Linked DNA regions of Homo sapiens. The protein of the gene in region 2 interacts with the protein of the main gene of each other region in a biochemical or structural test. Each region holds a gene or a part of one and is shown on either strand. Other genes may lie near its edges.

Evidence for each region.
Region 1: of the proteins of FOXO1 (region 2) and AKT1, one has a biochemical effect on the other in vitro, tested with the Homo sapiens proteins (4 studies listed by BioGRID).
Region 3: the proteins of FOXO1 (region 2) and ESR1 form a complex in vitro, tested with the Homo sapiens proteins (2 studies listed by BioGRID).
Region 4: the proteins of FOXO1 (region 2) and PITX1 form a complex in vitro, tested with the Homo sapiens proteins (one study listed by BioGRID).

Annotation. Positions count from the first base shown.
Region 1 is NC_000014.9:104,771,749-104,778,771, reverse strand, and holds part of AKT1 (RAC-alpha serine/threonine-protein kinase), read left to right. Parts: intron 1-2,001; coding exon 2,002-2,113; intron 2,114-2,972; coding exon 2,973-3,120; intron 3,121-3,564; coding exon 3,565-3,696; intron 3,697-3,768; coding exon 3,769-3,834; intron 3,835-4,791; coding exon 4,792-4,860; intron 4,861-5,191; coding exon 5,192-5,317; intron 5,318-5,392; coding exon 5,393-5,521; intron 5,522-5,679; coding exon 5,680-5,894; intron 5,895-6,319; coding exon 6,320-6,407; intron 6,408-7,023. UniProt on the Homo sapiens protein: AKT1 is one of 3 closely related serine/threonine-protein kinases (AKT1, AKT2 and AKT3) called the AKT kinase, and which regulate many processes including metabolism, proliferation, cell survival, growth and angiogenesis.
Region 2 is NC_000013.11:40,558,642-40,565,664, forward strand, and holds part of FOXO1 (forkhead box protein O1), read right to left. Parts: exon of another isoform or gene 4,048-7,023; intron 2,220-4,047; coding exon 882-2,219; 3' UTR 868-881; intron 394-867; 3' UTR 1-393. UniProt on the Homo sapiens protein: Transcription factor that is the main target of insulin signaling and regulates metabolic homeostasis in response to oxidative stress.
Region 3 is NC_000006.12:151,838,677-151,845,699, reverse strand, and holds part of ESR1 (estrogen receptor), read right to left. Parts: intron 3,104-7,023; coding exon 2,913-3,103; coding exon of another isoform or gene 2,907-2,912; intron 1-2,906.
Region 4 is NC_000005.10:135,031,220-135,038,696, reverse strand, and holds the start of PITX1 (pituitary homeobox 1), read left to right. Parts: upstream 1-4,468; 5' UTR 4,469-4,747; coding exon of another isoform or gene 4,748-4,815; coding exon 4,816-4,984; intron 4,985-5,156; exon of another isoform or gene 5,157-5,423; intron 5,424-7,188; coding exon 7,189-7,421; intron 7,422-7,477. UniProt on the Homo sapiens protein: Sequence-specific transcription factor that binds gene promoters and activates their transcription. May play a role in the development of anterior structures, and in particular, the brain and facies and in specifying the identity or structure of hindlimb.

The DNA.
Region 1 (7,023 bases), on a different chromosome or scaffold from region 2:
AACTTGCTGGACCCCCAGGTTCTGGTCCAGGGTCTGGGAGGAGGTTAAATGCAGGGAATCCGTCCCCAGGCTGGGCAGGGAAGGACTCCCACCCTTGGTGCCTGCACGTATAAGGGGAGGTGGGGTCAGTCTGGCACCCTGGCTGCTAGGTGGTCTGTGGCCAGCAAACCGTGCCCTGAAGCTTCTAGTTGGGAGGGGCAGAGGCCTTGCCCTGCAAAGCCCCAGGCTGAGGGGCTGGGGTTGGGGTGGGGTTTACCAGGACCTGGTTCCTGTAAGCCGAGGTCTCCTTCCCTGGCTCTTCCAGCCTCAAGCCAGCAGTAGCAGGGCAGCCTGATAGAGTAGGGCACCCCAGGGGTGAGGGGAGACCAGGAAGGCAGACACCCCTGTCTCCTGACAGCCTCGTAACCATGCAGGAGACTCACTGTGACTTGTCCCACACCCTCCCCAGTGTCTCCTCGGTTGGGGCTGGGGGCTTCAGGGATCAGGGAGAGGCTGGGTGCCAGCAGCGTGCCTGGTGGCACCTGGGACAGGGCCTTGCTGGGGGTGGGTGCTGTGGGTGTGCTCGCCAGGCCGAGGCATTGGGAAGGAACGAGGTGGGGAGCTCTCTGGAGAGGCACACGGGTGGGTACCAGCTGGAGGTGTTGCCTGAGCAGCTGGCAAGGCTGGGGCCTTCAGATTAGGCCATAGGTGAGTGGCCTGGAGCGCCTGGCCAAGGAGCAGAGCTGGGCAGGGGCCAGGGGCTGTGCTGGGCCTCTGTCCGGGGCTTTTCTCCGGGGAACGGTTCCGGGGCAGTGGGCTCGAGACTCTGGCCCTGGGGATTGCATACTGGGGCAGATCGGACCATCCAGGAGCGAGTGGGAGGTGGGTGTGCCGGGGCTTCACACCGGTTTCCACTTCTCTGGCCTGTGTTGACACAGGCCACCCTCCCCACCAGGCTGGTCCCGAGCCCCCTCCTGGCCCCCAGGCCTGGAAGACAGCTTCCTTGCTGCCTGGCCAGGCCCCCTTGTGGTTGCCAGGGCCTCGATGCTGGAATGTCAGAGGCCCCCCACTGGCCCCTCAGCCTCCTCCTGCTTTGCACAGGCTGGGCCAGAGCCTGCCACGGAGCCCCAGCGGCTACACACTCCACTCACTCACACCTCTCAGGGCCCCGCACGTTCCCACAGCCCTCAGGGTGTACGTGCTGTAGGTGTGGCTGTGCCCCAGGTATGTGTTCCCCAGGTGTGCTTGTGCCCCAGGTGTGGCTGTGCCCCAGGTGTGCGTGTGCCCCAGGTGTTCGTGTGCCCCAGATGTGGCTAGGTGTCTAGATGTGTTCTAGATGTCTGTGTATTCCAGTGTGGCTGTGTCCCAGGTGTGCGTGTGCCCCAGGTGTGTGCCTCAGGTGTGCGTGTGCCCCAGGTGTGGCTTTGCCTCCAGTGTGTGTGTGCCCCAGATGTATGTGTGCCCCAGGTGTGGCTGTGCCCCAGGTGTGCCTGTGCCCCAGGTGTGGCTGTGCCCCAGGTGTGCCTGTGCCCCAGGTGTGGGTGTGCCCCAGGTGTGGGTGTGCTCCAGGTGGCTGTATTTCCCAGGTACTCAGGGTGAGGTTGGGAAAAAAGCAGGACATTTCTACACTAGGTGGGACAAGCAGGTTTCTGGGGTGCCCCCCTCATGCCAGCCCCTCTGTGGGATCTCCATACCCCTCATCCTCTGAGGCCTGGCGCACGGCGGGGCTCAGAGACTGAAGGAAGGACTGTAGGAGTGGACGATGGTGGGGGTTTGACCTGACGCCGGGCCAGATGCCCTGTGTGGCTGCCTCAGCCTGGAGTAGAGTGTCTGAGCTGGAACAGGGGTCCTAGCCCCACTCTGTGAGGCGAGAAACTGAGGCTTGGAGAGAGGAAGAGATGGGGCTTCCCAGGACCTGGTGGGTGGTATGCAAGGGGAGCTGGCTGGTGCAGCGGGGGCTGTGGTGAGGGCCCTGGGAGGGGCAGGGGGATGCACGCAGACAGAGGCTCTGCCTGCCCGCAGAGTGCCAGCTGATGAAGACGGAGCGGCCCCGGCCCAACACCTTCATCATCCGCTGCCTGCAGTGGACCACTGTCATCGAACGCACCTTCCATGTGGAGACTCCTGAGGAGCGGTACGTGGGCTGTGGCGGCCAGGCCAGGCACTTGGGCAGCCCCAGCGCTTAGGAGGGACACGGGGATGGCGGGGTGCTGGCACCTCTGCCTGTAGCCATCCTCACTCCCCAGTGCTCCCAGGCCCTCCTCAGAGCCCAGTTTGGAAACTGGCCCAGTCCTGCCTGTGGGGTTTGGGTGGGGAAACTGAGGCTGGAGATAAAAACTGGCTAGGGACCGGGTGCAGTGGCTCACGTCTATAATCTCGGCACTTTGGGAGGCCGAGGTGCGCAGATCACTTGAGACCAGGAGTTTGAGACTAGCCTGCCAACATGGTGAAACCCCCGTCTCTACTAAAAATATAAAACTTAGCTGGGTGTGGTGGTGCACACCTGTAATCCCGGCTACTTGGGAGGCTGAGGCACAAGAATCGCTTGAACCCGAGAGGCAGAGGCTGCAGGAGCCGAGATTTTACCACTGCACTCCAGCCAGGGCGATAGAGCAAGACTCCGTCTCAAAAAAAGAAAAACCCGGTGGAGAGGGCCAGTCCTCCTTGGGGGGCGGAGTCCTGCTTGGGAGGCGGAGTCCTGCTTGGGGGGGGCGGAGTCCTGCTGGGGGGCGGAGTCCTGCTGGGGGTTGGAGTCCGGTTGTGGGGACAGAGTCCTGCTGGGGGGCTAAGCCTGGGTGTCCCCCACGTCCAAGAGGGCTTCGTGACCCTGAGTGTATGTGGCCAGACCAGGTCAAGTGGTGGCCTCCTCAGGGCTGTCTCTGGGAACCCCGACAGCTGTGGAACCACGCTTGTGAGGCTGGCGGGTGGGTGAAAGACGTGGGGTGGAGCTCCTGATCTGGTACAGGCCTGCAGCCTCACCTGACCTCCTGCAGGGAGGAGTGGACAACCGCCATCCAGACTGTGGCTGACGGCCTCAAGAAGCAGGAGGAGGAGGAGATGGACTTCCGGTCGGGCTCACCCAGTGACAACTCAGGGGCTGAAGAGATGGAGGTGTCCCTGGCCAAGCCCAAGCACCGCGTGGTGAGGCCTGTCCCCACTTCTGCCTGTGCCTGGGGCTGCCTTGGACTGTGGAGGGCTGGGTGGGTCATGGGGTCCCAGCTCGGCCCAGGAGACACTCAGCACTCCACGGCATCTCCACCTAGGCCGGTTTTCCATGTAGGGCGCAGCTGCTTCCCAGGTGGGTCCTCTTCCCCATGTCAGAGGAAAACTGGGGTTGCTGAGCCCTGCCAGGCTTGGGCAATGTTACCCCACCCTTCCCTGAACCCCATGCTCTGAGCTGGGGCCGCAGCCATGTGTTCCCTGTAAGCCTGGACTCCCCGCTGAGCCCAGTAGGCCACCAGGTGTGAAGTGGACGCCTCTCCTGGCTCTGCCTCCGACTCTGGGGCCCCTCATGCCACCCCACGCATGCCGACCAGCTGGGCACTGTTGGCAGCGCCGCTTGCTGACCCTGGTGCCTGCCCATAGACCATGAACGAGTTTGAGTACCTGAAGCTGCTGGGCAAGGGCACTTTCGGCAAGGTGATCCTGGTGAAGGAGAAGGCCACAGGCCGCTACTACGCCATGAAGATCCTCAAGAAGGAAGTCATCGTGGCCAAGGTGGGGCCGGGGCGGTGGGGCAGGGTGGAGATGAGGGTGCGGGGTGGCAGCTCACCCAGCCCTGCTTTACAGGACGAGGTGGCCCACACACTCACCGAGAACCGCGTCCTGCAGAACTCCAGGCACCCCTTCCTCACAGTGAGTGGGAGCCCAGATGGGGCTGAAGGGCTGGGGCCAGGTAGCGACTCCTGGGGCTGTCTCTAGGGGACGATGTCCTGTCTTCTTGGGCACGTGAGGGCTTTACACACCGTGGACTCCGCCGCTGGTGAGACAGGCCTGCCCTGGAGGGTCAGGCTGTGGAGGTGCCCAGTGTGGGCTAGGGGCTGTGCTCGCTGCTCCCGTGTGCGGGCAGGTGGGTGGGGCAGGTGGCCCTGGTCTTCCTTGCACTCTGCCGAGGCTCCAGGAGGCCCCAGCTCCCCATGCCCTGCAGCCCTGCCTGCCAGGCTTTTGTTGAGGCCCGGGCTCTGTCCTGCAGAACCTGTTCTGGGGACTTGGCCCAGGAGGTATTTACTGTGAAGGGGGCCAGGGTCCAGCCACTTGGTTAGTTCCAGGTCACTGTGTTTGGGGACGATTCTCCTGCAGATGGGGCCTTTGCTTTAAAAGCACAGTCGCCTGTGGTGGAAGGCGGGAGGGTGGGTCTCGCCTGGGAGGGTGTGTCCTCCCTTTGCGAAGGCCCTGGTGCTGGGAGCACTGTCCCCTGCTGAGGTCCCAACTCACCCTGGAGGACCTGAGCCCAGGCCACCTTGCTCACCTTTCAAACACTCCTTGGCACCTCAGGGGCTGCCGGGGCCCAGCCTGATGGTGGCGTGGCATGAGGCAGTGTGGTGTGGGGCAGTGTGGTGTGGGGCAGCGTGGCATGGGGGCAGTGTGATGTGGGGGTGTATGGTGTGGGGCAGTGTGATGGGGTGTGTGGTGTGGGGCAGTGTGGTATCGGGCGGTGTGGTATCAGGCAGCGTGGTGTCGGGCAGTGTGGTGTGGGGCTACGGGCGGTGTGGTATCAGGCGACGTGGTATCAAGCAGCGTGGTGTCGGGCAGCGTGGTGCGGGGCTGCCGTCCTGCCTGTGGGGCCGCAGTTCCAGCTCCCCTTCCTTGCAGGCCCTGAAGTACTCTTTCCAGACCCACGACCGCCTCTGCTTTGTCATGGAGTACGCCAACGGGGGCGAGGTAGGGGCTGGGGCTGCGGGGGATGGACTTCGCGGCCTGTGGGCCGCCCATGGTGGGGCCGGTCCTTCCCGGAGCCTCGGCTACTCTCCATGGCACCAGACGGTGCTCCCTGCTGGGTGGGTGGTGTGATGCCTGCCCAGGCAGCTGCCTGCTGTGGGGTGACTTGTTCCTGCTGAGTTAGGGCTTCTGAGACTTTCCAGGCCCCCGTGCCCTCTGGTGGCTGGTCCCTTCCCTGTGCAATGCCGAGACCCGGTCTGAGAAACCCCAGCCCTGCAGGCCATGGGGGCAGAGGCCCGAGCCACGGCTGTGCCTCAGGTTGCGCCTCCCGCAGCTGTTCTTCCACCTGTCCCGGGAGCGTGTGTTCTCCGAGGACCGGGCCCGCTTCTATGGCGCTGAGATTGTGTCAGCCCTGGACTACCTGCACTCGGAGAAGAACGTGGTGTACCGGGACCTCAAGGTGCGCTGGCGGGCAGGCAGGGGGGCAGGGCCCTGGGGGCCTGGCGGCACTGACCTGAGGCCACCTTTCCCCTAGCTGGAGAACCTCATGCTGGACAAGGACGGGCACATTAAGATCACAGACTTCGGGCTGTGCAAGGAGGGGATCAAGGACGGTGCCACCATGAAGACCTTTTGCGGCACACCTGAGTACCTGGCCCCCGAGGTGTGCGCCCCACCTGCGTGCATACGCGTTGCTGCGTCCCCACGTCCTGAGCACACGCAATGCTGTGTCCTCTCTGTGCCCCAAGCACGTCACACCTCCCCCGGCAGTGTCCCGGACACCCCTTGATGCCGAGTCCTGCCCATCTGCCACCCGTGCAGGTGCTGGAGGACAATGACTACGGCCGTGCAGTGGACTGGTGGGGGCTGGGCGTGGTCATGTACGAGATGATGTGCGGTCGCCTGCCCTTCTACAACCAGGACCATGAGAAGCTTTTTGAGCTCATCCTCATGGAGGAGATCCGCTTCCCGCGCACGCTTGGTCCCGAGGCCAAGTCCTTGCTTTCAGGGCTGCTCAAGAAGGACCCCAAGCAGAGGTGAGGGCCGCCCATCCCAGCTACAGGCTACACCTCCATCCCCTCATCCCCAGGCTGCACCTGCCCCTGCGCCAGGCGGTCCTGGCACCTCCCAGACTACACTGATAGCCAAAGCTTGATGTCCTTGGCCAGGGCTGATCTCCAAAGCCTCAGGCCCAAGCAGAGTGGCGGGCAGGCCGGGGTCAGTTGGGCCTCTGTCCCCAACCCTGCAGCCTGCACCCACCCACTCAGGAAGCCCCTGCCCTGCCGTGAGCTCTGTGGTGCTTTGCTACCCACAGCTGCTCAGGGACGCTGCACCACCGGCTCCCCTCCCTGGCCCCGGAACGTCCTGTCTGGCGGGCCCTACATCACAGGAGGAAGGGGCCTGAACCCAGGGCCTGGGCAGGTGGCGGTACCGACACTGTGGCCTTGTTTCCTGCCTGCAGGCTTGGCGGGGGCTCCGAGGACGCCAAGGAGATCATGCAGCATCGCTTCTTTGCCGGTATCGTGTGGCAGCACGTGTACGAGAAGAAGGTGCGGCTGCTCCCCGCATATTCACGCGCACGCATGCTCCCCACATATCCACACTCACGCATGCACGTGGCACGCTCGCCAGATTTCCCACACACTCGCCCTCACCTCAGGAGCCTGCTGCAGTCCTGGTACAAGGAGGGCCTTGCTGCACCAACCTCAGCGCCTGGTGCTCAGAGGCTCTGGCACTGCCGGGTTCCACCAGGAAACTGGCCTGGTCCTCATTTCCTCCTCCCCTCGGAGGTGTGTCACACTCTGAGTTTCCTCCTCCCCTCGGAGGTGTGTCACACTCTGAGTGCCAGCCTTGGGGTTCCCTTCCCTGACGCTGTGCAGTGAAGGCTGGCTGGTGGTGGACCAGGGGTGCTGCCCCTTGGCCTCCACGAGTTCCTCCTGTTTGACCTCAATCCCTTCTGCCGCAAGGAGAGCCCAGCCCTATTTCTGGCTGTGCAGGGACAGGGACAGCACCTACTTTTCTGGCACATGGGGGAGTCCGCCCTGGAGGGAGGCAGCTCTTTCTGCATGAGTCGCCATCCTGGGTGCTCATCTTTCAGGGACCCTAGGAGCCCTGGCCATCACCCCAGCTGATGGGGTCTGCCAGCTGGGTTCGGAAGCCTGCACT
Region 2 (7,023 bases):
ACTTTCCTTGGACCAATTGGATATTTAGAAAAACCAAAAACACACACAAATACAATCTGTATCTACTGCTTATATACAAAACTTGAAAGCACACCAGGATCTGAAAATCTTTTCTGCAATTATATGGTGTAGTGAGTTTGGCACTTCATTGTAATGAAATTTCCAATGGCACAGTCCTTATCTACAGCAGCACATAACCTGCACACATTGGGCAAACATCCTGTACAGGAAAAATGTCTTTGCTGCCAAGTCTGACGAAAGGAAAAAAGGAGGGTTTTTTTTTTTGTTTTTTTTTTTAACCAAGAAAACTAAAAGGGAGTTGGTGAAAGACATCTTTGGACTGCTTCTCTCAGTTCCTGCTGTCAGACAATCTGAAGTACTTTTAAGTGTAACCTAGGAAAAAACACATACATACGCACACACACATACACACACAATGAAAATATAGCCAAATTAAAATCAATTCAACTTAACATGTTAAGAGTGACAGACATACTTAGGGGCAAAAAGCTAGAGCTTTCTCAAACAGCTCTAAAATCATTCAATGGGGAAAATTCTACTTTACAAAAAACCCTTCAGCATTTGATTTATATCAAATGTATTCATTTATTGAAGAGCTACTAAAAAGATGCAGCCATCGAACTGTCAAAAAGAAATCTTTAAAGCAGTTAAAGGAAGCTTCCTTCTGTGTAAGCTCAGAAGGAAAACTGTAAGCTGCAAAAAGGACAGAGAATGAATGATAAAAGATCCCTCTCTGCAAGGGACAGTCAGTTGACATCAAAGATGTGCTAACCATGGCAAGTTACTGTGTTCCTCGCTTTTAAGTTCTATTTTTCAAAAGGTCTTTTGATATTGGGGTGAACTTACCTGCTCACTAACCCTCAGCCTGACACCCAGCTATGTGTCGTTGTCTTGACACTGTGTGGGAAGCTTTGGTTGGGCAACACATTGTCAAAGTTAAAATCCAATGTATCTCCATCCATGAGGTCATTCCGAATGATGGATTCCATGTCACAGTCTAAGCGCTCAATGAACATGCCATCCAAGTCACTTGGGAGCTTCTCCTGGTGGAGAAGGCCCATTCTGCCATAGCCATTGCAGCTGCTCACGGAGGAGTAGCCCCCCAGGGCACTCATCTGCATGGGGTGGGGCAGAGGCACTTGTACAGGTGTCTTCACTTGGGTCAGGCGGTTCATACCCGAGGTGTGGGGCATGGTGCTTACCGTGTGGGGCAGGGGACGCCCGTTAACTGCAGATGTCTGCTGAGCATGTCCAGGGTGGGTATGGGAGCTGGGATTCATCATTTTGTTATGAGATGCCTGGCTGCCATAGGTTGACATGACCGAATTAGGGCCCATCATGACGTTCTGGCCCAGAACCCGGCTGTTGGGCTGGGCTACCCCAGGATCAACTGGTGTCATAATGTCATTATGGGGAGGAGAGTCAGAAGTCAGCAACTCCTTCAAGAGTCCAGGCGCACAGTTATACTGACTCATACCTCCATAACTCGACTTATTGTCCTGAAGTGTTTGTATAGGCATCTGGGGCAAAGGGCTCATGCTGGATTGGCCATATGTATATTTTTGGTAGTTTGGGCTGGGTGAATTCAAACTGGTGTTTGGTGGCGCAAACGAGTAGCACGGCGTCTGCTGCATCATGGTGCCAGGTGAGGACTGGGTCGAAACAGTTAATGATGTTGGTGATGAGAGAAGGTTGAGATTATCCAAAAGATTTTCCATGTTTTCGGGATTGCTTATCTCAGACAGACTGGGTAAAGTAGAGGCCATCTTTGCGGCAGATGGCGGGTACACCATAGAATGCACATCCCCTTCTCCAAGATCATCCTGTTCGGTCATAATGGGTGAGAGTCTCCCACTAATAGTACTAGCATTTGAGCTAGTTCGAGGGCGAAATGTACTCCAGTTATCAAAGTCATCATTGCTGTGAGAGCCAGGGCTTGCAGGCCATTTGGAAAACTGTGATCCAGGGCTGTCCCCAGCACCCTCCTGGCCAGACTGGAGAGATGCTTTCTTCTTGGCAGCTCGGCTTCGGCTCTTAGCAAATTTACTGTTGTTGTCCATGGATGCAGCTCTTCTCCTAGGAGATTTCCCGCTCTTGCCACCCTCTGGATTGAGCATCCACCAAGAACTTTTTCCAGTTCCTTCATTCTGCACACGAATGAACTTGCTGTGTAGGGACAGATTATGACGAATTGAATTCTGTAAGGCAAAACATCTTATTAGAAGTACAATACTTCTCTGCTTGCAAAACTTCCTATTCTACATGTATTACATGGAAAACAAGTAAAAAATCTTAAGAGTGTGTGCTACAGATTTCCATCTGAACAGTCCTAATGGCTCTGAAGCCACTACAAAAGATCTCAAATAGCACAGGAATAAATAGTATCTTATCTTAAAAACAATATCTGTGGCTGGGTGCGGTGGCTCACGCCTGTAATCCTAGCACTTTGCGAGGCCCAGGCAAGCGGATCATGAGATCAGGAGATCAAGAGCATCCTGGCTAACACAGTGAAACCCCATCTCTACTAAAAATACAAAAAATTAGCCAGGCATGGTGGTGCAAACCTGTAGTCCCAGCTACTCGGGAGGCTGGGGCAGGAGAATGGCGTGAACCTGGGAGGCGGAGCTTGCAGTGAGGCGAGATCGTGCCACTGCACTCCAGCCTGGGAGACAGAGTGAGACTCGATCTCAAAAAAAAAAAAAAAAAAATTCTATATCTTAATTTAATGAAGGGACAAAATTTAATAAAGAGTATTGTAAATACCTTCTTTTATACAGCTACATTTTATGGAAAAATCAAAGGAATTGGTTTTAATAACCGCTTAAATTTTGCTTAGCTACAATAGTACTCTGTATCAAAGTGCTATCAAAAACCCCTTCCATTCTACTATCCTTAAAACTACTGCCAATTCTCTTCAGTTTGAACCTGTGCCATTTACATAAAGAAGTTTTATATTACTGGGCCCACATACTTACAGAAACAAAAAAGACAAAAGAATATAGAATATATAGAATATAGAATATAGGCCAGGCATGGTGGTTCACACCTATAATCCCAGCACTGTAGGAGGCCAAGGCAGGCAGATCACCTGAGGTCAGGAGTTCAAGACCAGCCTAGCCAACATGGTGAAACCCCATCTCTACTAAAAATACAAAAATTAGTCGGGTGTGGTGGCAGGCGCCAGTAATCCCAGCTACTTGGCAGGCTGAGGCAGGAGAAGGAGACTGCGGTGAGCTGAGATCACTCCAGCCTGGGCAACAAGAGTTAAACACTCTGTCGCCAAAAAAAAAAAAAAAAAAAGAATATAGAAATATAGAGCTGATCAAGAATTAAAGGCCCCCAAATTAATAAGACTTGGATTCATTCACACCTTTAAAGCCCATTAAGCAAATACAAGTGAATGTAAGGAAAACAGAGTCATTGCTTTTGTATTTGAGAAAGCTGACCTGCCAAAAGAAATTTTTTTTTAATTCAAGTAGTGCCCCTACCCTCCAGTTCTACCAATGACCAGTAGTATGAGCAGGATGCACCAACTAACTCCATGACACACCTCCACGTAGCCAGGGGCTACACTGTCCAAACAGACAACCTGGGATGGGAAGAAATGACAGAGAACGCAAAGAGCTCTAACTCTCAAGCTACCGCAGCTTCATAACTAATCATGCCATGTTTATCATCCCTAGGCCAACTAGGGAAGAAAAACCAACAATCTTTCTTTTGAGTACTTCCTGGGTGGCTCTGCTACTTACTTACCTAGGTGACCTTGGGAAGCTGCCTAGCCCCTAATGTGTCTTAAGTTTCCTCACCTGTAAAGCAGGGCTAAATTACAGAGCCTTATCAGGGTTGTTACATGTACTAAATGAGATACATAAAAATGCTCAGCGGTGCCTGGCATGTAAGCAGTCACCATGAAGGGAATATTAGACCCCAACTTAGAATAGTGGTATCCTGCGCCCCAAAGTCCTGCTTCTCTATTCCTATTCAGTGTGGTATGTATAGGAGCTTAGAAGTAGTACAGATACAAACCCACAACTGCAAATATATGGTGAAAGGGGCCAGAGGTGGTCTCTCCAAGTTTCAGCAGAAACACCAGAGCCAGGCTGCAGATGAGAAAGCCATGGTTTGATTCACCTCCTCTACAACACAGAGTAAGATGGTGTTCAGGGGAGTCCGTGGGACACGTGGAAAAGGAGACGAGGGAAACGCTGTGAGCTCCCCAGAAGGAAGGGCCTTGTCTTATAGCTTCTGGCCCCCAGCACAGTACAGGGCACACAGCCACTACACCTTGTTCATTCAGCAGCCTCTTTCCTCAGAGGTCTGCTCCCAAGGAGTGGGATTCTGGGTGCCCTAAGACCCTGGAATGTGCACAGTCTCCCAGCTTTCTTGGCCTCCTCTGCCAACTGGATGCAAGGCTCAGCTGACCATGCCCCCTGCATCTCTGCGGCCCCTCTTCTCAACCACAAAAAGGCTCTGGCTGGATTTGTGGTCACCCAGGGGTGCAGCCACAGCGCCCACATCCTCATGCCATTGACATGGGACGCCCGGGCCCGAGTGCCAACCACTGCGCCTGAGCAGAGCCTCTGCACAGCAGGATGAGGCCTGGCTCCAACACAAACTGGGAGAGAAGTCTTCTCTCATTAAAAGGTGGTAGAAGAGAGAAAATGGAGGGGTCTCACTTTCTAAAGGGAGATGCAAAAGTCAGGGTAAGGCCCAGCAGTCAGGGCTGAGAAATCCACATTTCAAAACGCCCTCTGACTCTCTGTACTGCATTCCGCCTAAAGATTTCAACACAGCAGCTACGTGACAAGCCCTCCTGCCAGAGCATACAGTGAAGTGTGAGAGCGGGGAAGACACCACCGGAGCCCCAGATTCCCGGCTGGAACGGAGCAGGTGTGTGGTGATGGCAGTGACTGTCTCCTGTTCCCAAGAATCCCCACCTTCCTCCACACCCAAGATCTACCCTCACCTCGAGACACGCTGTGAGGAGGGCCAGGGGCTTAGAGTAGGTACAAGAATCCCTAAAAGAGGCCAGGGAGTACATTTCCCTCCCATCCTATTGCATTCCCCTAAGATCCCCAAATTCCTATGGGAAGGCGCCACACACACACATGTATGCTCACAGAGCCACAGCCTTGTCTGCTGTACCCACCAACCCCAGCCGAACCGAGTTCTTAATTCCTCCTTAAGATCAGCAGGCCCGCACTTGGGGTAGCACTGGAATGCAGCCCTGCAGTCTGACCCTGACATTTTCTATACACTGGAAGTCCAGGCATTTGCACAATATTCCATCATGACAGTTTTGTTCTTTGAACACAATAGACACACAGATAAGCTCCGATGAAATCTCTGGAGGAGAGGAAGCTTGACTCCTGTCCCTGTCACATTTAGTTAATGATAAAGGGGGAAGAAAGATCTTCCCAGATAGAAGCTTCCTGGTTGTTGCATTGACTTGGGGAGAGGGGGTGAAGCTCTCTAACATTCATGATAAGCCTGTCAGATCACTGGCAAGCCCAGCTGGGGGTCATTTTTAAAAAGACTGCAGGAGACATAATAAGGAAATCTTTAAAACATTCAAGAAGCGTTCACTAACTCAGGTGGGACATATACTAATTTAGACTTTAAAAAAAAAAAAGCCACAGCAGTCTCCTACTTATCAAAACATCATATTACATATTTTTCTAAGAGGACATTTCAGGTCGCTCTTTGAGTAACAGAGCTGTTTCCTAACTTTGCCAACAATTAAAATTTTTTCCGAACAGGAAAAGGTTTGCTGTGCAGGACTTGTTACATAAATTCCTGTTTTTCACACAGCCAGCGGGACATTAAAGAAGCTACGGTTTCTAGGGGGTGGGGTTTGAAAAGGTAAATTTTGTAAAAATGTGTTGCTATTAACGACGTTGTGTCTGCACTCCCCTACTGGCCACAGGAGAGGCTGGATGGAAGAGCAGTTCACCAGAAGGACTTCGCAGCAGAGCCGCGTGAGACTGCTGGGCTCTGAAATATTATGCCCTTGAACTCTCAACAAATATTACCTGAGGACAGAGGCAGGATGTCAGGACAGAGGTTCATGCCCTGTCAATCACTTGCCCAAATCCAGCGTTTCTACATGACGGCACTAGAGAAACACAAGCCAGCCAATCTCCTCTCCACTAGCTTGTTTCTCTGCAGCCCCACTCACAAGCCTCTGCACACACCCCATCTGCCATCTGCATGCCTGGCCACCCCAAGCAGTGCAGCATGTGCTTCCTGGGAAGCCTGACCCAATGAGCTCCACAGATGGGGGAGTCGGGGAACCCCGACATGGTGTAGTCGGGGAACCCCGACATGGTGTACTTGCTTGTTCAACCTGCTCTGCTGGCTGTTCTATGTTCAGATTCTGAGTTCCTTAAAGAGCAAATGGGCTAAAGCTTGTCTTTAATTTCTAATATCATAGCCTCAATAACTGTTTGTTGCTTGACCCCCAAAAAAATTACAAGGAAGATATGGTGTCTTACACAATACACATCTTTTAACCATCCATTTGAGTACCAATTCATGTCAACTAACATTTACTGGAAACTATTTTGTGGAAGGAGTAGCGAAAGACATGAAGGAATGAGACACAGAACATGCCCTCCAGAAGCTTTTGATCTACCTGGGGAGAAAATAAGTACACGTAAAGAGCCACTTAATAGGATGACACAACCCATAGACTGTCCAGGAACACGGACCTTTTCTCTCCAAAGGCTGCCACCCTGCCCTCCATGCCCCAGCTTCTGTCTCAGCCCAACTGGCCCCTCCAGAAGCATTTCTTGATGACCTCATCCCATCCTGCAGCTCTAACATGGGACCTTACTTACTCACCCCTCTTTATGATTCCACTATGTCTGATCCCTGGGGCGGTGGGGGGGCATGCCTGACTTCCCACTACACTGTGAGCTGCTCAAGTGAGCACAGGGACCTTTGTCTGTCTTCTTGTACACTGTATCCTCACAGCACCAACACCATAGGGGCACTCAAGTA
Region 3 (7,023 bases), on a different chromosome or scaffold from region 2:
GTTTCTGAAACCAAGTGGAATTGCATTTTTATAGGCTACTGTTTCAGTAAAATTCTACTAGCTGGTCTGCGTATACAAGACGGCGATAAGAGGTTTTTGTTAGTGGTGGTGGTGTTGTTTTGTTTGTTTTTTGAGATGGAGTCTCACTCTGTCACCAGGCTGGACGGCAGTGGCATGATCTCAGCTCACTGCAACCTCTGCCTCCCAGGTTCAAGCAATTATCCTGCCTCAGCCTCCCAAGTAGCTGGGACTACAGGTGTGCACCACCACGCTCAGCTAATTTTCATATTTTTAGTAGAGATGGGGTTTCACCATGTTGGCCAGGATGGTCTCGATCTCCTGACCTTGTGATCCACTCGCCTCAGCCTCCCAAACTGCTGGGGTTACAGGCCTGAGCCACCACGCCAGCTGAGATACTTGTTTTTAACTATCAAAGAGTAAGCAGACATTTTTCAAAATGTTTGAACTTGAGATAATGCCATACCAATGAAACATCTCACACTGTATTCGTTGATTTTTAGAAATATATTTTCCTTCTGTTTTTTCTGTTCTTAATGCTTAGAGACAATACTAAATGTTATGGGAATTTATATAATTTTATCTTAAATGCTGAACAAAAATGATGTAAAAAATTTGTGAGAATATTGCCATTGTTTCTCGGAGGAAGATCATTTCCACTTTCAATCTTAATAATTTTAATTTATAACTGGTATTTTCATTTCTTACATCTCTCTATTGTTTTCCTTATCTTTCTCATACAGGTAACACTTTATCAATACTGACTTACTTTCTGATTGTATCATGAGAACAAGTACATTTACTTCCTCAAATAAATTTCCTAAATACATTTTAAATTTTGTGGTATTATGGATTATGTCTTACACTTTTTTTTTATTTCTCTCGGAACATCTAATCAGGTATAGAGTAAGTTCTCAGTAAAATGTGAATAATCAAAACTTTAGATTTAAAAATCCCCTATTCCCTTCCATAAATAAAGGTATTTAGATCAGATAAATAAACATTAAATCAGGGATCGGCCACGGGCCAGGGCTGATCTGTTACCTATTCTGATAAATAAAGTTTTATTAGCACATAATCACTTCCATGTGTTTACAGGTCACCTTACAGGCTATAATCCAGTTCGGTAGCTGCAACAGAGACTGCATGGCCCTTGTAAAGCCTAAAATATTATTATCTGGCCCTTTACAGAAAAACTTTGCCAACCACTGCTTCAAATCATTTTTACTGATGAGGAAACAGTCTCAGCTCAATCCATCCAGTTGTGCAGTTAGACCTATCTACTAACCATACCTCTGTCAGACGCTCTTTCACTGCCAAATTAAATGCTTGGTAAAAACAATGGTATTTTAGATTATATAAAATCAAATAAACAGTAAAACCACAAATTAAGAGAGTTGTCAAAACACCTCTAAGGGCTTATACTAACCTAAATCAAAATATAAATGTCATTTTTTTCTGAATTAAAATAGCATCATCTAATAAAATTAAATAGCCTGTGTGCATATATATATTTATATATGTTTAGAAAAATAATAAATATATTAACTTACATTTAGAATTTATTTCTATATATATACACACACAAAGATTACTATTGAGAATATCATTAATTGTATAAAAATACCAACAAAAAAGTCCATGTGTCTCACAGCAGAGTTCTAAAAGATGTTAAAAGCAATGTGTCGAAGAAAATGCTTTTAAAATAGACCATGTTGACCTCACATGCTACTCGATTAAGATATGAACAGCTTTTAAAAAAAAAAAAAAAGTCCCACTGGCAACGGAAGGAAAAATAAATACTATATACCATCCCCCAGCTTTCATCTCATATCAGGGCAGGAAAGAGCTATCACAGAAAGTCCATGAGAATCACTTCTTCAATCAGTGTTTATTAACTTAGCGGACTCTGGTTTTCAACAAGTTACTTAAATCTGGGTTTTTGTAGAAGGAATCACATGAAAACTCCATCAGAAATATTCTTAGTGTTTATACTAACCTTCACTTAAGCTGAAAAGGTAAAGAATAAGAAGAGAGAAAAATGCCCCACACTTAAGATAAAAAATGAATTTGGTTAGCCTAAGCTGCTGTCAGATCTCTGTTCCTATCAGATAAAGGATATTCAGCATAGGTATTTTAGGTAGTAAAAATGATTAGTGTTTCCCCAGGGTATCCTATTATAATGCAATAATAGAGACATTTCTGGAGTAGAAATAAAGTATAGCTCTCCGTATATTAGCTATAATTGGCAAACTATAGACAAGAAAACAATGGAGGCAGGCGGGAAAATGAAATGCTACAGGTAGATACTTAATAACTGTTTGATAAAGATGATATCTCCCCATTACAAGACACCAACCACTGAGTCAGCTCATAGCAAAATATCCTGTCATCCATTGAGACAAGAAAGAGATGGAAGAGAGAAAGGGGAGAACAAGCTAAACTAGAACAAAACAGAATATTTGCCTGGACAAGGCCTGAGTAGAGAGATAATTATGCATGGACAATTAACAGCATATACCAGATCATATAGGCAAAGTTGCCTACCAAACATGAATGTCCATCTGGCATTCCCCAGTCAGGGCACAGACAACATTTCTTTTTTCCTCAGAGATCCAGCTAGTGGAATTCTTCTGTAGAGTTGCTCAAGACTGATTGAGTCTTGCCAAAGGAAGGAAGCGGAATTACTCAGCCTCAGCTGCCCTGCCATGTGTCAACTCCTTCTCCTGAGATCCTGTCTCTTCTCCATGTTTCTACCAAAGATACTAGTGGACCTACTAGGGATTCATGTTTTGTACAAATGGCTGATTCTATGTCTTCCTTCCTCAGTCGCTTTGGCTCTTAGGATCTGCTCATAGGATCAAAAATAGAAGTCGTTTTCAACACACTATTACCTTGAATACTTCTCTTGAAGAAGGCCTTGCAGCCCTCACAGGACCAGACTCCATAATGGTAGCCTGAAGCATAGTCATTGCACACTGCACAGTAGCGAGTCTCCTTGGCAGATTCCATAGCCATACTTCCCTTGTCATTGGTACTGGCCAATCTTTCTCTGCCACCCTGGCGTCGATTATCTGAATTTGGCCTGGGGGGAAAAAAACAGTAAATCCATTAACATTAGAAAAGCAAAACATGCACTCTCTGGGAGATGCAGCAGATCCACTTTATCCTGACATTTTGAAATAATGAATCATAATGTAAGCTAATCTTTCATTACCTCTTGCCGTCTGTTGCAGCAAAAGGTGTTGCCTATTATATTAACCTTGAGGGGAAATTGTTTATTGCAAACTTGTTTTAAAAACATACTACCTGCACCAGAATATGTTACCTATAAAAATGACAAAATGAAATTAGCTGGTTTCTAATAGACTTAATGTTTTTGCAGGAATATACAATTATTTCAGAACCATTAGAGACCAATGCTCATCCCAACTCTAGACCACACTCAGGGTCTCTGGGAAACAGAGACAAAGCATAAAACAGCTGGGACATTTGGAACTCAGATGAACTGATGGACAACACAGAACATGTGTCAAAAAAATAACAATTCAAATTTTTACGTCATTGCCACATAACCCTGGATATCAGTTTTTATAACTTGAATAATGTAATTTGAAAATACTGTTCTTCAATATTCAAAACTCCTCTTTAGGAACATGTAGAGACTGAGCATGGTGGTTCATGCCTGGAATCCCAGCACTTTGGGAGGCCAAAGCAGGAGAATTGTTTAAGCCCTGTAGTTTGAGCCCAGCCTGCACAATATAGCAAGACTCCATCTCTATAAAAATGCTTCTTAAAAAAATTAGCTGAGAATGGTGATGTGTGACTGTAGTCCTAGCTACTTGTAAGGCTGAGGTGGGAGAATCACTTGAGCCTAGGATGTCGAGGCTGCAGTAGGCTATGATTGATCATGACAACTCCAGACTGCGTGAAAATCAGAGGAACACAGAAAAAAAAAATGTAGAAAGAGAGACAATCAGAGGAACACAGAAAGGAAACTGAAAATGAACAGTAAGAAAATTCTAGGAAAACCAAGAAAATAAGGAAGTAAAATGCTTTAAGAAAGTAGAAAGCTAAAAAAAAATGTAGGAAGAGAAGAGGAACACAGAAAGGAAGCTGAAAATGAACAGTAAGGAGATTCTAGGAAAACCAAGAAAATAAGGAAGTAAAATGCTTTAAGTAGAAAGGTTTATGGAGAGGATGATCAAGAATGGCAAATGGGGCAGAGAAGTCCAACAAAGCAAAGACTGGTTAAGTGAATTCAGACCTGACAAAGCAGACTCTTAGCAAGGAGTTTCCTTAGACAGGTACAGGCACAAGCCAAAATTCAGCAGATGGAATGTAAGGAGATGAAAATGAGGGAAGGCATTCCTTTGAGAACTTGGAGGAGAATAGGAAAAGATACAGATAGGGTGGCAGCTGAAGAATATAAGACCCAAGAAAATGAATTTTTTAGAATGAAGAGACTTGAGAAGGCCTCGTGTAGACTGAAGGGCATGGGCCAGGAGAAAGGGAATGTTTGAAAGCACAAAGAGGAAGATAAAAGAATAAAGCCAAGAAGGAAACTAGAGGAGTTGGGATTAAAAACACAGGTAAAAGAAATTGCCTCAATGAAGACAACTTGAAGAAGACTGGAAGGAAGGAGGTAAGGAAAGTAGAGGAAGATGAGTTTGCATCTCTCGCCAGACCAGACATAGGAGTAGATGTTATATTGGCCCAGGACTTGGCAGGCATGTGCAATCAAATAAAGGTGGAATAAGAGCCCAGCACAGTACCTGGCATGTAGTTGGCACTCCATAATATATTTAAATGAATGGAGAGAGTGTTCAAAGTTGTATAAGAAAGAAAGGTAGGCAGACATTGAAAGTATAGATGGAGTGAAGGTTCCTGTGAACATTTTTTAAAAAATGAAAATCCTAAGATGAGCTAAAGTCAATTGATGATAGCCCTTCCAGCAGGGTCTCTTGGCAAAGGAAGCTCAAGCTTCCTGCTTCCAGTCCCCACCCAAATACCCGAACCACACTGACTTTCACTGGCGCTCCCCTTCACAAGCCCTGTCTTTCCTTTTAGCCCAAATTGTATAACCTCTCCCTGCCTTCTCAGTCATTATTATGGTTCACAATTTTGTGGTAGTGGTTCTCAAACTACATTTGCCATAATATTCACAAAATATTGGCTCCTTGGGTTGAGTACGTCTGACTTTGCCAATTTCGTCCATTCTAAATAACTTAGTTCTGAGGTTGGCAGCCTCAAATAGGAATTCTTTATTTTTTAATGTTCATTAGAGAGCACTGGCTCACAGTTTTCAATTCTAGTTCATATTCTGTTACCCATCTCTTTCCATTTCACCACCATGCTGTTGAACCCACCCCCATCAACCTCAAATCTTTTTATTGCTTGTTTACTAATATCCTATGCATGATTCAAGTCAGTAGGAAGCAGCTATGAATATCTAACTGTAGAAGCTTAGTGCCTTTGGAGGTGGGAGTAGATATTTAGCAAGCATGAAATTGATAGATTCAATGTCTTATAAGCCTTATTAATTGTTATATCTAGCTCAGTGCCCAGCACATAGCAAGCATTCAATACATGTTTGTTGAATGAATGAAGGAATAAGTGAGTGAACAGTATACGCATGGCCAGAAGTTCCAATGTGTCAAGTATCTTCCCACCCACGCCTACATAATAAAATGCTATATTTTTTAAATTGTGGTAAGATATATATAACACAAAATTTACCATCGTAACCACGCTTAAGTGTTCATCAATTCAATCATGTTAGATATACTCACATCATCGTGCAACCAGTCTTCAGAACATTTTCATTTCACAAAACTGAAACTCCATACCCATTCAACAATAATTCCCCATTTTCTCCTTCCCCTATCCCCTAGCAGCCACCAATCTACTTTTGTTCTCTGTGAATGTGGCAATTCTAGATACCTCATTAAGTGAAACCCTACTTTTGCTTTTTGTGTCTAGCATATTTCACTTAGGATAATGTCCTGAAGGTCCATGATGTGACTAATATGCCATTGTCTGTATATACTACACAGACTTTGTTTACCCATTCATCCATCTATAGACATCTGGATTGCTTCTACTTTTTGGCTATTATGAATAATGTTGCTATAACTATGAGTATACAAATATTTCTTCAAGACCCAGATTTTTAATTCTTTTAGATATATACCCAGAAGTAGAATTACTGGATCATATGATAATTCTATTTTGATTTTTTGAGGAATCACCAGTGTTTTCCACAGTGGCTGCACCATTTTACATTCTCATGAACAAGGCACAAGGTTTCTATTTGCTCTATATCCTCTCCAACACTTACTCTCTTCTTTTTCTAATATAGTAGCCATCCTAATGAGTGCGAGGGGAATACTGCATTTTTATGTCTTTTGCCTGAATGCCTCCCTTACCAGCCACTCCTAATCCCCATAAACTTGAATCAACATCCCTGTTCTGAACTCTCTAGAAGATTTTTTTATTTCTCTTCTGCTACTTACTATATTAATCTTCAATTGATTAATTCTCATTTCCATTACTATCTGCAAAGTTCTTGGTGTCTTATTCATCTTTAAAATGCCATGTGCTTAGAGCATAGTGCCTCACTTGGAATAGGGACTCAACAACATTGATATCAAATGACTGAATCAATAAATGTATAGTTTCCACAATATAGATAGAATATGTAAATACTATTTTTATAAATATTGACAAAAGATTTAATAGCGAGAGCCCATTTTCCTCAGAAATAGCAAAGATGTATGCTGTCAGCAAAATGCCATTCATCTACATTTTATCTCTAAGATGACCCCCAGCTTACTGAAAATCAACTGCAGACTTTGGGCATAGAAATAGAAGGCATCTAAAGAAGACGGGGAAACTACATGGGCTATATTCACTAACCATAAAGGAACTTTTTTAGCCAACTTAGAAATCCATGTAAATAACATTGTCAATTATCATTTTGGCCCAGACTTACTCCATAAAGAC
Region 4 (7,477 bases), on a different chromosome or scaffold from region 2:
GCAGTAATGGGAACCCCAGGCTGGAATCCGGGTCCCAAGCTTTTCCGATTTAGGAATTCCCCGAATCTACAAATATTTAGTCCACTTTTCTGAAAAACTAAATTCTGAAAAACACAAATTCTCTTGACATCCCTGTGACCTCTGAAAGCCACCAGGGCCAGAGGGAGGAAATCCCAGGTTGCTGTCCACTGGGGGAGGATTCAGGTCTAGGGTTCAGGTCTACGGTAGTCAGGGCAAAAGCTACAGGCAGCAGGGGCAGCACAGGAGACTTGCTGTCCCCGTGCCCTTTCCCGGGGCTGCTTTCGGCCTCCCGCATCTCTTCCAGGGAAAGGAAAAGAGGTGGGCTGGGGCTTGGAGACCAGGCTGTCTGGACTCTAGGATGCAGAGGCCTCCAGACAGGCTCAGGGTGCTCTTCTCCCATGAAAGCAGCCGCTGGGAGGAGGAGGCTATGGTGCATCCATAAGTTGCCCCTCTGCTCCCCAGTTGTGCGACCAGCTGCTACCTCCTTCCTAGTCTTCTTCCCCACAGCTCAGCCATTCTCAGGAACCAGACAGCGTCCATGGACTTAGGTGAGAGATGGGCCGGGTAGAGCCATGGGTCCTACCAGCCGCTGACTGAGCGGCCCACGGCACAGAGTCCTGAGTTCCATACTCCCATCTGTGCCTCACTGGCGGCAGTCCTGCTCAAATACATCCTGGCTCTCCCCGGGACAGGCTGGGGATCCCCATTTGGCAGGAAGCCTCAGACTGGGGTCCCAGGAAGCCTAAAGGAGCCAGTGAGGTCTTTCCAGCCCCTACCTGAGCACCCTCCTCCCCACTTACCCAGTAATTGCTGTATTCAAAGAAACGGGAGCTTTTATTGGGGAGGGGGTGTTAGATCAGGCAGAAAGAGGTAGGTGGTCCAAACCTGCACTCCCAAAACAGGGTTTTCAAGTTTGAACTTCTCCACGGACTAAGAGGCTTAGGGCTGGAATGTCCCAGAGAGTCATGGATAGCCCTGGTGGCAGGCCATGGCACATTCCTTCCTTTTTCCTAAAATACCTTGATTCTGGGAGCAAGGATTAGGGCACGGTGCCCCCGTGGGTGGGTAGAAGGATGCCCCCCCACTGAGAGCCTTCCAACCACCCTTCCCAAATTACATTACTAAACCATTCTTGGGCACAGGGTGTTTTTAGTGAGCCAGGCTTCAGGAAGGGTCCTCATGGTGACTACTTCAACCCCACAACAGCCCAAGCTCTTCTGCTCAGCCCAGCCAAGACCCTAAACTCCAAAATTCTTGAAAATCAGAGAATCATTGCTGGCTTTGTGTGGTCACGGAGGGGTGGGGAACAGGGCACATGGTTCCAGCTCCACTAAGCCCCCTTCCCTCCTCTCTTCGTGTCCCATCAGCAAGTGAGCTGGATGCTGAAGCAGCAGGCAGAGTCCGGTGTTGGACATGGGAACTGAGGCACAGTGCAGATCAAGCCTTAACCTTGAGGGAAACACAGGTCACATAGCACAGCTGGGGGAACACAAAGCCTCTGCTTACTCCTGAAAGAGTGCTGTTTTCTGTCCTGTATGTGTGACGTGTCTGTGAGCGTGCAAGAAGCCCCTATCTTGACTGGGACAATGGCCAGTGAGTGTAGCTGGGGAAGAATTGAGAGCATGTCCAGGTCCCTTCCCCAGCCAACGCCCAAGATCAGGCCACAGCCTCCTCACAATCAATTGCCTCCTCACTCCTTGATCACTCAGTGCTGCCCAGGCCCAGCAGAACAGACTCTGCCAGCAGGCCCCACTAGCCCCAGCTCCTCTTTGGGTCTCAGGTCCCCTGAGGATATGGGGCTTCACCTGAAATGGTCTGAGGGCTTTTCCTTCTACACAGCAGGCATCAAGATCACCAAATAAAGGGACTATTGTGCCTGCCTGGAGCCCTGCCAGAGGTTTGGGCCCAGAGGGGCACACAGCAGGTGCTCAATAACTGCATTAAATGCACTAACAGTGAGGAAACACGCCCCTCAGACTAAGCAGTGAGTGCTGCTCACAGAATAGTCCCCATTGGGGGATGGCCCAAAGAGTCACTTTGGTCCCTCTGGGAAGTGAGAAGGCAAGTGAGAAGGCTGTGAGTCTTAACCTCCTCTAGAGGCCCACAGACAGACCATTCATTTCTAAGTCTCTACCCAGAGACGCACTGTGCTTCCCACCTTGGCCTGACATGTGGCAGGGTTAGAACACACCTCCTATCCCCTGCCAGCCCGCGTTCATGCCAAGTAGCACATATATGCCTAAACTCAGCACTTCCATAGTGCAGTGAATACATGTGTGTGTACAGCATCTCCGCATGGATGTACAGGATGTGTGTGTGTGTGCGTGCCCCCATGCTGTCTGCATTCAGGCTGTTCTTTTTGGTAAGACAGCTAAAAAAAGAATGGTCTGTGAAGGGACACTCCCTAGCACGCTGCAACACCTGAATATCTCCTTGAAAGGAGGGATCTTCTACTGCAGGAGACTCGTGGTAAAGGTGGCCAAGAAACATGGCAACGGTGGGGCTGAGGGCAAATGCTGGGCAACTGTGCTTCCCCATGTTCCCCTCCCCGTAGCCAAGACTCATTTCATGGAGGGAGATCTCAGCTTGGAAGAAGGCAGGAGTCACTGAGCCTCCCCAATCCAAACCCCTGAGAAGTGTCCTCCCTCTGGCCTCAGACCCTGCATCCTGTGGTCACAGACCCACAGTGAGAAAGGACCAGGCCCTAAGGAGCTGTGCTGTCTCTCCACGGCCCAGAGCGGGGGATGGGGATGGGGATGGGGATGGGGATGGGGATGGGGATGGGGGTAGGGGTGGGGGTGCTTTGGACTAACGTGGAGGGAATGGAAGGCAGGCCTGGTTCCACCCTGCATGCCCGACCCTGGCCCCAGCAGCCCCCACAAGGAGCTCAGCTGACCCTGGGTGTCTCCCTGTGATGGGAAGGGGTAAGACGAGGACTCAAAGGCAGAACCTGCAGAGTGCCCCAGACGCTGATACCTGCACAGTCAGTGCCACCCACCCAGGAGTTGAGGAGGCACTGGGTTTTGGGGTGAGGACACTGGACACCTCCCTGCTTCTTTCCCAGGCAGACAATCCTGGCGCAGCTCCCTTGGGTTGCTGTGTCTGGTGGAGCTGATCACAGGTGAGGGGCAGAGGGCAGTCTGGGGTCCGCCTATGGCCAGAGGAGCAGGTCAGGGCGGCGCCTTGCCGCCCCAGCTGTGGCCTGTTTGCTCAAGACGCTGAGGTCTCGGGGCCAGCTAACAATTGTTGAGCAAAATCCTTCGACAAACTTCACCTACGTGCAAGGACTCGAGGAGGGAATCACTCTTAGGAGTGGGAGAGTAATGTCTTTGCCTGTGCCCAGTGAAGGCCCATTGGAGCTGCAGCTCAGCTACCACTGTGTGGGAGAGAAGCTGGAAGACTGAGGGCTTCCTGGGCTGCTGGCCCAGGGTTGGGAGACAGCAGTCACCTGGCTTACCAGGCCTATGCCTGAAGCCCTGGGAAGCCAGGACGCAGGCCCCAGGCTGGGACAAAGCTACCCTGAAGGAGGGCAAAGGCTGCCAAGGCCAACCCCATGCCTGCCAAGGCCAGGCCTGGCCCATTTGGCCAAGGCCTAAGGTGTAAAACAAGGGGAGAGGTACAAGAGGCTGTGGGGTCTGGCTGGGATCCTTGGGGTCTTCCTTCTGCATTCTCCAAACGCCTAGAGCCAGCAGAAACGTTTCGTCTGATTAGAAGCCATCATTTCTATCCCAATCCCGGAAAATTGACTGCGGTGCAGAGAGGGAGGCCTGAGAAGCAGCCGTAGGGGAGAAGGTCCAAGCTAATTAGGAGGCAGCATCCGGGGGCCCATTAGAGCGCAGGCTGCTGTCACTCAGCCGGGCTGAGTTCCCGGGAGAAGAGGCTGGAGAAGGAGGGGCAGGCGGCCCCTCGACGAGGACACCGCTGGGAGCTGCCGGAACGGGCCCCGGGCTCTGCCCCCGCCCCGGCGCTGGCTCGAAGGCGCCCGCTCGGTGCGATCCTGTTCGGCAAACATTCACTCATCCTGGGCTGTTCTCGCCAGGGCTGGGGACTTCGAGGCGGCCGAGACGGGAGTTGATTCTAGGCGAAACAAGTCATTTGAGGCCTGAGGTGTGCACGAGCCGCCCGGGACTCGCAGGCCAGATGCGTTTCTTTTGTGAGGCCGAGGGAGAACTCGGTGTGTCACCGGGGAAGGAGGGAGAGGCGCGGCGAGGCCGCGGGGGGCGGGGAGGCGGCGGGAAGGTGGCTGCGGAGGGGGAGGGCGCGGGCGAGGCAGGGAGGGAGGGAGGGCGGCAGTGAGGGCGCGGCGGCGCGGGCGGCTTGGGGCTGGATTCCGCCCGCGCTCCCTCGCTCGCTCGCTCCCTCCCCAGCCCCCTCCCACCCAGGCCCACCCCACCCAGCACCCCTGGCGCAGGGACTGCTGGAACCTGGCTGTGCGCGCTGTCGCTTTAAGACAGACTCTGCCGGCGCCGTCCGGAGCCTTAGAAACCGGCCCCGGATCGCGAGCCGGAGCCGGAGCCGGAGCCGGGGCCGGCCGGGCTGCTGAGGCCCGAGCGGCAGGAGCGCAGCGCGGAGCGCTGAGCCAGGCGCCCAGTCGCGAGAAGCTGCCGCCGCCTCTGCCCGCCCGGCGCCGCAGCCCCGGGCGGTCCATGGGGCGGGCACGGCGTCGCTGCAGGCGCCGGCAGCCCTGGAGGGCAGCCGCTTAGGCGCTGCGCTCTTGTCCCCGCAGGTCGCAGCCAGGGCGGCGGGGCGCGCCCAGCCCCGGCCCCTGGAGCGCCCGCCGCGGTCCCCACCTCCATGGACGCCTTCAAGGGGGGCATGAGCCTGGAGCGGCTGCCGGAGGGGCTCCGGCCGCCGCCGCCGCCACCCCATGACATGGGGCCCGCCTTCCACCTGGCCCGGCCCGCCGACCCCCGCGAGCCGCTCGAGAACTCCGCCAGCGAGTCGTCTGACACGGAGCTGCCAGGTAAGCGCCGTTCCCCGCGCGGCGCGCACAGAGCCTACCCGGGCGCGGAGCACGGGGAGCTGGGAGCAGGGCCTGACGCCCGCGCCGCGCAACCAAGCTCCCTCTCCGCCCCAGAAGCGTCAGGAGCTTTCTTTTTCCCGTTCTCGACCTGACGGTGAACGCGGAAACTTACGCACACGCGAAGGCACTTCCACGCGGTCCCCACGCGCCAAGAGACTGGCAGATGCACGAGCCTACAGCTGGAGGGTTGGACTGACAGCCCCTCTTGATCAGGAGTAAATAGAACGGGAAAGAATTTGATTTGCGCAACTGGGCGCTAAGGAGCGGCTCGGACGAAGGGAGAGGAGGAGACCGAGAAAGGAAGAGGGGTGACGGGCGAGAGAACGCACTCAGAGAGACAGAGAGGGAGGTTAACACCGTGACAGTAGGCGACAGAATGAAAGAGACCAAAGAGAAGGGGCGGGCGGGAAGGGTAAACGGGGGGAGAGGGGTCATCAAGTAGAAGGGAGACACAGAGGACGGTGAGGGCGAGCGGGCCAACAGGCGCGGCCGGACTCCCAGCAAGGCCAGCCGGAACGCCGATCAAGGGATCCGGCCCACGTGCGCGGCCGAAGCCCGGAGCAGCCCGGCTCTGGCCCCCGCCCCGGCTCCTGCGCGTCTCCCTCCGCGCTGCCTTTTTTTGTCCGAGCTGGAGCTTTTTTCCAGCAGCGAACTGGGCCCGCGGGTGGCCGGCGCGGGCAGTGGGGCAGCGAATCCGCTGCCCAGCGCAGCCGGCCGGGTTCCGGAGGGGCTCCGAGCTCCCCGGTGTGGGCGCCTCTTCTGCGTTCATTTCTTAATACACAGCTGAATGTTTCTCTCCACTTTCTTAGTATCTGTTTCTCTTTTGCATCCCTAAGTGATTTTTCTGAGAGGTTGTTTGCTTGGTTAAAACATAATCAACGCTGAACTCTACTTTTGTTTTCAAAAGTTTTAAGCGCGGTCTTTGGTTGGTTTTATTTTTAAAACCTAGAGAGATATATAATCGTATATTGATTTTTTTGAACCAAATCTATGAGGATGAATTAATTTTAACTGTATCTTTCGATTCTGAAAGAATTAACGTACGAAGTGTAGGTCTGGAATTTAAAATATCTACATGCAACATTATTCTTCCGGAGATTTTAAAAAGTCAATCCAAAATGGCGCGTTTCTCCGGAATTTTCTCAAAATCCATTTACAGTGGTGTTATTTGGGGAATTTAAATTATCTAACTATAATGTGTTTCTCTGGGATTTAAAAATTATCTCTACAAGGGCCTTATTGGGAAGGAGTTAAAAATCTATCTACAACGGTACATTATTTTTTTAAATCCCAGAGAAATAAATGCTTCTGTCAACCTGGAGTTTATACACTTACAGCTCTGTATTTAGTTAGGGGTGTGTTTGTACGGAGCTTTCTGGCTTCTTAATTTACATTTGCTCTGTGTTTCTTCCTGTCTGATTTTGAGAATTTGTGGCCCTTTCAGTGTCTTTAGGCATAGAGCTGTGAGCTTTTCTGGGCTTCTGTGTTTTGTTTTTAAACTCTTTTTCTTTATGTATTAATGTTTCTATGACTGCGTGTGTTTTGTGTAGCTTCAAAGAGAGACAGACTAAAGCCCGAGGTCACCTAGACAGAGTCTGTCTGTCTGGGCTGCAGTTGGTGGGGTTTTCTAGGCTTTGGGACTGGAGGCCTGGAAGCAAGGCCGAGAACCCGGCTGTGTTGTGCCTGCCCAGTGGGGCTCCCATACACCCCTGAGGAGAAGAAAGTGGAGGGACTTTAGGCTGGAGAGATCTGATCCTAGTTCAGAAAAGCAGAGACCCCCTCAGATTTAGACCCCCTAAGAGTTCGCAAAACAAACAAACAAAAAGCATACATTTGCTGGGAACATCAGCAGCAGGGTCAGAATCTGAGCCGAGCTAAGGGTGCAGGCCCTGCCCAGCCAGGAACGCAGGCCCGCGGCTCCAGCTCCGATTCTTGGGCTCTTCTCCGCGGCACACCAGACTAGAGGTGCCTACTGACGACCAGCACCCGGCGGGCGCTTTCCAGTGGGGACAGTTCCCAGGAACCCTAGAGGGAGGGAGGGAGGGAAGACCGCCAGCGCTGGTGGCGAGCGGTTCGGTGGAGCCGGGACGGGGTGCAACGGGGCGTAAGCCCAGGTGACCCGCTCCCCGTCCTGCCTACTGCAGAGAAGGAGCGCGGCGGGGAACCCAAGGGGCCCGAGGACAGTGGTGCGGGAGGCACGGGCTGCGGCGGCGCAGACGACCCAGCCAAGAAGAAGAAGCAGCGGCGGCAACGTACGCACTTCACAAGCCAGCAGTTGCAAGAGCTAGAGGCCACGTTCCAGAGGAACCGCTACCCCGACATGAGCATGAGGGAGGAGATCGCCGTGTGGACCAACCTCACCGAGCCGCGCGTGCGGGTGAGCAAGGGGTGCGCGCCTAAGGGCACCCGCGCAGAGGGCTCCCGGGCCGCCTC